Linked DNA regions of Homo sapiens. The protein of the gene in region 1 interacts with the protein of each later gene in a biochemical or structural test. Each region holds a gene or a part of one and is shown on either strand. Other genes may lie near its edges.

Evidence for each region.
Region 2: the proteins of L1CAM (region 1) and EZR form a complex in vitro, tested with the Homo sapiens proteins (one study listed by BioGRID).

Annotation. Positions count from the first base shown.
Region 1 is NC_000023.11:153,872,674-153,876,480, reverse strand, and holds part of L1CAM (neural cell adhesion molecule L1 isoform 1 precursor), read left to right. Parts: intron 1-466; exon of another isoform or gene 467-536; 5' UTR 537-644; coding exon 645-720; intron 721-3,238; coding exon 3,239-3,253; intron 3,254-3,783; coding exon 3,784-3,807. UniProt on the Homo sapiens protein: Neural cell adhesion molecule involved in the dynamics of cell adhesion and in the generation of transmembrane signals at tyrosine kinase receptors.
Region 2 is NC_000006.12:158,784,865-158,788,671, reverse strand, and holds part of EZR (ezrin), read left to right. Parts: intron 1-1,468; coding exon 1,469-1,564; intron 1,565-3,088; coding exon 3,089-3,363; intron 3,364-3,807. UniProt on the Homo sapiens protein: Probably involved in connections of major cytoskeletal structures to the plasma membrane. In epithelial cells, required for the formation of microvilli and membrane ruffles on the apical pole. Along with PLEKHG6, required for normal macropinocytosis.

The DNA.
Region 1 (3,807 bases):
AGATACATAAAGACATACAAGAAGACACACGTAGCTAGCAGACTTGTGTGTTGATTCCCTCAGGCACACACACTAACACACCCACTCATGAGTGCAACCCCTCCCAGAGAAGACACACCACAGAAATACCAGCTCACATACAGCTCACTCCCTGCTTGCAGATCCACAACCACACACATGCCCACGGACACCTGCACATGCAGACACATACGGGGATGTGCATGCCATGCACAGGGGAGCTGATGGGGCAACAAGTTGGTGCTGGGAAGGCAGCTGGCAGGAAAGGTGCAGACAGAGAGTAGAGAGGGAATAAAAGGCAACCTAGAGGCCCAGCCAGGGCTATCTCTTCCAGATTTCTCCCTCCAAGGTGGGGAGGGGTGCGGATGGGGAGGGGAGGGCTGGAGAAGCCGGCCAGCTGGGGGCGGGGCTGAGGGCGGGGCCAAGAGCCCGGGCTTACCCAGATGTTAGTCACTAACGTCCTTCCGTTCTCTCGTCTCTCTTCCCCCACCCTTCCCTTCCCTTCTCCCCTCTCCCAGTGCCCCCACTCCCAACTCCCGCCCCAAGCCGCCCACCAGCCCCCTTCCCCTCCGGCCGGAGCCTGAACCGAGCCCGGCTGGCTGTGCTGCGCGGTGCCGCCGGGAAAGATGGTCGTGGCGCTGCGGTACGTGTGGCCTCTCCTCCTCTGCAGCCCCTGCCTGCTTATCCAGATCCCCGAGGAATGTGAGTAGCTGAAGGGAGCCTGGGCGCCTACCTTCGCCGCTATGTTGGGCCCCTCTTTATCTTCTACCTCCTCACCTTCTCCCTGTTCCGGACCCTGACTCCTCTCCCTGGCCTTTCCTGGGCACAGGGTGGGCAGGAGATAGCCAGGACGTTGGGTACCCCCGGAGAGAAGGGCAGGGTAGAAGGTGCGGGGCGTGTCAGGACCATGGACAGGGACAGGCGCGGCCGCCGGGGCGATTTCAGCACCAGGGACAGCGAACCTGGAGCAGGGCCCCGAGGTCTTGGGCCTCCTCCATGCTCTCCTTAGCCCGCCCCATCTCTGCCCGCCCCACTCCGACTCCTCCGCTTCCATCCCCCACCACAGGGGTGTGGCAGCAGGAGAATGGGGTCGTCCCCAGCCCTCAGCTGGCTTGTGCAAAGGCCTGTGTTCAAGTCTTGTCCCCATTTCTCTTTCCCCTCCTGGGCCCTTGGTCACCCTGTCTCTGAACTGAGACAGGAAAAGGTGGCTTGAAAAACCCTGGTCCCAGCCCAGCAGCCTTCTGGACCCTTTTTTGTGTGTAGTTATTTGGTGGGGGTGGGGGCAGGGCTGCTGGAGCATGTGTCTATGGTTGTAACATTTGTTGGGGGCACAAGCAGGTGAGTGGATGTTGGGGAGTGTGGCCGTAGGGTTGTGATTAAGCATGGATACACTGTGTATGTCTGTGTGTTCTTGTGATTGACTGAGCGTAGATATTCGTGAATGTGATTTTGACTTCCTTACATGGGTGACTGTGTGAGTCACTCTGTTACTTACTGGCCAGGCTTGTGGAGGTCGGGAGGTATTTGACCACGACATTTGATTGCATTGGGTCATGTGTATGTGTGAGTGGGGCTGAATGTAAGTACACACTTGCGTGTGGGGGGTGTTACCGTGATGGTGTTTTCTCCTGTAAGTAGCTGTCAGGCCGTGTGAGGGGCATGTCACAGGGTATCATGTGTGAGGGCATTTGTGTCTCTTGAGCTACCAGGCTCCAGTCCCTTCCCAGCCTCACCTTGACACCTTTGTCTCTGGGCCTGGACAAGGAGGAGGCCAGTGTCACTGAGAGACGAGTTGGCGGATAGGGGTTGGGAAGACTGTCTGTGCCAGCAGTGGGACAGGGGCTGCGAGAGAGAGGCTGGGGAGGCACCTGGCGTTGGGAGGCAGTGAGGGCTTGGAGGAGGTAAAGGGGCTGGCCCCTTAGACACATACATGGAGGGCCAGGGCCAGGCAGACTCCCTTGGTACAGATGCACATGGACACATGCACACAGGTGCATGAAGACAAGGCAGGTGCAGGGATGAAGGAGCAGAGCCGCTGAGAGGCCACACAGGTGGAAACACACACCAGTGAGGCTTTTAGACCCAGAGGACACAGAGGTGGATACACAATATAACACTGTACAGTGGAATGCAAGCCGTGCATTCTCTACAGAAAGATGGGAGTGGGGAGAGAGAACTAGGCCAAAAGGCCATGGCAGCTCCAAGGCTGCCCTGGTCACTGACCAGCACTTGTTCTTGACCCTGATACGACACAGTGGGCAGTGGCAGGCAGCCGGCCCTCCCTGTTGGAACCTGTCTTCCATCTCTCCCTCCCCAGCCACTCCAGCCCCCTTTGTCTCTTTTCCTGCTTCCTCCACCTAGTTGGCTTTCTGCATCCTGTCATCCCTGTCACCATCTCCCTCCCCAGCTCAGGGCCCTCTGCAGTGTCCCCAGGGAGCCCCCTCCTCCCTCCCTGGACCTTCACACTGAGGTCTTCTGCAGAGACAAAGCTTTCAGAGGCAGCCTGCTGCTCCCTCCCTCCCTCTTCTCCCTTCCTCGAGGCCGCCCTGGCCAGTGCTCTGCAGAGTCCTGGGGCTGGGACAGCAGCTCTGGCCTCTGCCCCAGAGAGCTTGGTGGCTGTCTGGGAGGAAGGAGGGAGAAGAGGAGGGCTGGCGCCAACCCCGCAGGCTATGGAAACTCAGAGGCAGCAGGGCCTTTGGGATAGTTTTCAGGGGGAGGGGGCAGCAGGGCTCTGAAGGCTGGGCCCTGGTAATTGAAAACACTCAGCTGTGCTAATTGGATTAGGAGGGAAGCAGGCTGGAGCAGGGGACGGTGCCTTCCAAGGCATCCTGAATGGGTGGGGTCAGTTCTGCAGGCCCTGCCAGGCCCTGCCAGGGGGCTGCAAGGACACTCCTTGTTAAAGGCAAGAATTTCTCTCTCCCTGTCTGCTAGAGCTGGAGGCATGGCCTGGCTGCCTCTGGGCTACATGCCCTGTGTGTCTATCCAGTGGAGCTCCTCTCCCTGGGCATCTCTCTGTCCCATCTCCCTGGGCTTGACCTGCCACTGCTCCAGCCCAGCGTGTGCCCCCTTGTTGCCACTGCCAGGGCCTCCTCTCCTGCCATTCCCTCTCCACGGGGGGGCTGCAGGAGCTTACTATGTCCCCTGCCATCTGCCCCACTCTGGGGCTGCCTGTCAGTATTTCTCTCCATTCCCTCCCTTGCTGCCTGCCTGGATTTCTCAGATGAAGGACACCATGGTAAGTTGGGGAGGGGTGAGAGTGTTTCCCAGAAGGCCAAGGAGAAGGGTAAGGAGGCCCTCAGCTGAGCCTGCACCCCCGCCCTCCTGAGTGCCGGGGCCCTGCTCGGCTCTCCCTGAGCACCATGTGCTTCTCTCACCTGTGTGGGGCTGGCTTTGTTCTGTCTCTGCCCCAGCCTGGGTACTCTGTCACCCTCACTGTTCCTCTCTGCCATTCTCTCTGGTCCCTTCTCCCCTGTCTGGGGTTTGTCCTTCTTGGTTTCTGTGTCTTGGCTTTTGTTGCCCCCGCTTCTTTCTGTCATACCCTTTTTGTCTTTCTCAGGCATCTCTTTGTAACTTACGTGGCTGTCCCCTCTCTCCCTCTTTTCATGTCCCACAAGCCTCTTTTGTTCTTCCCCTCCGTTCGTCCCCCTGTGGCCATGGGGCCTCCAGGGGCTCTGGACCCTGCTTCCCTCACGATGGGACAGGTGCTGAGGCTATGACACCAGCCAGGCAGCACCCTCACCACCGCTCTCTCCACCCTGTCTTCAGTGATGGAGCCACCTGTCATCACGG
Region 2 (3,807 bases), on another chromosome or scaffold:
AGCGTTGTTTTTTTTTTTTTTCTTTGAGACTGAATCTCACTCTGTTGCCCCGGCTGGAGTGCAATGGTGCAATCTCAGCTCACTGCAACCTCTGTCTCACAGGTTCAAGCAATTCTCCTGCATCAGCTCCCCGAATAGTTGGGATTACAGGCACATGCTACCACGCCCTGCTAATTTTTGTATTTTTAATAGAGACAGGGTTTCGCCATGTTTGCCAGGCTAGTCTCGAACTCCTGAACTCAAGTGATCCACCCGTCTTGGCCTCCCAAAGTGCTGGGATTACAAGTGTGAGCCACCACGCTCAGCTTGCAGCCTTCCCCCATCCCTTTTGGGTGAGTGGGAAGAGGGGGAAGAACAGGTCAGTCCTGGGCATTTAATAAACAGACTTCTAGAGCTTTAGGGAGCCTCTGGCCTCCCTGCACCCTTCAGATGAAGAAACAGGCCCAGATCAGGAGTTAATTTGGAATTTTAGGATTTACTTTAAGCAAATGCTCTGTATACCTGAGTTGTCATTTCTAATGTATTCAACCCTCTTTGGCATTAAATATGATAGAAGCCATGTATTTGAAGGATGGTAGCATTTTTTAAAGTTTAACATTATATATCATGGGATTTTAAATTAGACATCTATGTATATGTAAATAGTCGAACTTGTCTGGGACTCGGTTTAGATGATGTTCAACAAATGTCCACAGCAAGTTCGACTATCACTGCTTTTCTGTTTACAAGACAGTCGTGAGACTAAGCAGCTCAGGACTCCTGTAATGCACAACAGAGGCTTGAAAATGTGAAATCTTTGCTGTGACCTAGGGTCGGGATTCTACCTTTGCTGTATCAGAATGTCCCATTTCTGGAGGTCTATAAGATGCAGGTTCCTCTGGGCACCCCTGTGCATTGACACCCTTCCGTCCCAGAAGTCTGCCTTGCCTGTTTTCCTGCCTTTCCTAGGATTTCTTTGTCCCTGTTCCTAGTAAGTCAGACCCCTGGGCCAGCTGGCTGAGAGGCAGAGGCAGGCAGCCAGAGGAGGCTCAGGTGTGGCACTGGATGCTTTAGTCTTCTGCATGAGCACACCTGACCGGCAGCGATGCACCCACCGCACTGTTCCCTGGGGGGCTGTGGGCTCCCATGGTTCTGTGTGTGCTGGCCATAACCCGCCCTGCTGAGTTTCATGCAGGAGAGCATCCTGGAGTACAAAGGAGTAGGAGTGAGATTTTCTAAGATTTGAAGGTAGAACCCTGAATCTGCTCAAATTTATATTAAAAATAAGTCGTTCATGGCTTTGAGATAATAGCCTCAGTTAGTAACAAGTTATTTGAGTGCAAAAAAAGATGTTGCCCAGTGGTTGGACTGAGCAGATGTCCTGGTTTCCTGGGGACTCTGCTAGACCATGTGATGAACGACAGCCAAAAGCTGTTGCCCTTTTGAGTGAGTTTCTCATGAGTGTTGAGCCTCTCTCTCTCTCACGCAGGTGGTAAAGACTATCGGCCTCCGGGAAGTGTGGTACTTTGGCCTCCACTATGTGGATAATAAAGGATTTCCTACCTGGCTGAAGCTGGATAAGAAGGCAAGTCAGGATTAACTATTTACAGGCTGTGGATTGGGTGTTGGTCTGCTTCATCGATAAGGAAACTGGAGCAACTCACCCTGTCTTTTGTTTTCTGTTCCTTTTTGTTTGTGTAAAAGTTTTTACAGACAAAAAGGTTGCAGGTTTCCAGTAAATGGAGATATCGATTGGAAATCAGATCTGGCATTTCTCCATAGTGCTCACTCATTGGAGCATATGATGGTTAATTGCATAGCTTTTAGTTGACCTTAGTTTTTTCAATGAGATTGTTAATCTTATAAACTGTGAATCATCCACCATCTTGTAAGAACCTGTTATTGCTTTGTTTGAACCTGTGACAGATTATCTTCCAACTTTAAAGAGTGGATAATTCCATTAACCAACCAAAAAGAAAAGTAGTAAGATAAACATTTTCTTCAAACTCTGAAAATTATCCTTTTTTTTTTTTTTGAAACCCCCACTGTCCTCCCAAGTCACAGCAACAAGTTAAAAAGATGATGGGAGGTGGGGAAGAGTGGAGGAGCAGGAGGAATTCTTAACAGTAAGTTTCGGGGTCCAGGGCCCGATTGGCATGTGGCCCCATTCCAGGTCACTGGGGTCATTTCCAAATTTGAGTTCTCCAGGATTGATAGCATCATCCCATGAGGACTGGGGCTTAGTGAGGCAGTAGCTTTGATTTCCAGCTGAGCACAAGAGTGTGATAGTACTTGTTTGTTTTTTGTTGTTGTTGTTTTGAGATGGAGTCTTGCTCTGTCGCCCAGGCTGGGGTGCAGTGGCACGATCTTGGCTCACTGCAACCTCCACCTCCTGGGTTCAAGTGATTCTCCTGCCTCAGCCTCCCAAGTAGCTGGGACTACAGCTGCATGCCATCATGCCCGGCTAATTTTTTTGTATTTTTAGTAGAGATGGGGTTTCACCATGTTGGTCAGGCTAGTCTCGAACTCCTGACCTCGTGGTCCGCCCACCTCAGCCTCCCAAAGTGCTGGGATTACAGTCGTGAGCCACCATGCCTGGCCTGTTTTTTTGTTTTTGTTTGTTTGTTGTTGTTTTTTAAGAAGAGACAGGGTCTTGCTCTGTCACCCAGGCTGGAGTGCAGTGGCGCCATCATAGCTCACTGCAGTCTCGAACTCCTGAGCTCCAGGGTTCCTCCTGCTCAGCTTCTTGAGTAACTGGGACTATAAGCATGCATCACCATCCCCAGCTAACTTTTTTTTAAAAAATGTTGTAGAGATGGGATCTCTTCTACGTTGCCCAGGCTGGTCTTAAACTCCTGGGCTCAAGTGATCCTCCTGCCTTGGCCTCCCAAAGCACTGGGATTATAGGCATGAGCCACCATGTCTGGCCTGTGGTAGCACTTTTGACTAACCTTTTTTTGTCTGGAGTGCTAAAAAGATGACTTTAAGAATAAATATCTCCTGAAAACTGGCTTGAGGGCCCCATTGAGTCTTGGTTAGAAGCCTGTGTTGGGGACAGTGGGCCTTCGTCTTCCGGATTTGTGTGGAGAGTGTGGCTTGTTTCGTGCAGGTGTCTGCCCAGGAGGTCAGGAAGGAGAATCCCCTCCAGTTCAAGTTCCGGGCCAAGTTCTACCCTGAAGATGTGGCTGAGGAGCTCATCCAGGACATCACCCAGAAACTTTTCTTCCTCCAAGTGAAGGAAGGAATCCTTAGCGATGAGATCTACTGCCCCCCTGAGACTGCCGTGCTCTTGGGGTCCTACGCTGTGCAGGCCAAGTTTGGGGACTACAACAAAGAAGTGCACAAGTCTGGGTACCTCAGCTCTGAGCGGCTGATCCCTCAAAGGTGAGCACAGGATGACCCGGCCTGGGCAGGAGCAGTCATGCCGTCCTCGGCAGGGAGAAGTGATTGCCTTAGAAGCACAGTTTAAAAACACAAGGACTTCGCCAGTGTCAAGTGCTCCTTCATGCTAGTCATTAAGTCACTGACCAGCGACCTGAAACATAGCCAGGGAAGGCGAGCTGCCATTCCTCATGGAAACTAAAGCGTGGCCGTGTCCTGTGGGACATGGCATAGCAAACTTCTCGACCTGACTGCTCAGCTCCTCCTGGGGTATGATAGGTTGCCCCTGTGAAATCTGTTTTTATTTAGTAATGGTCACAAAAATTACCCCATTTGGAAGAAGAGGCCACTTAAAATACCTCTTAGTTTTTCCAGCAGAACTGAGTTCTTGTTCAAAATGCTAAGTCTTCCAGATTAACTGTCATAAATAGAAATGCTGCACATCAG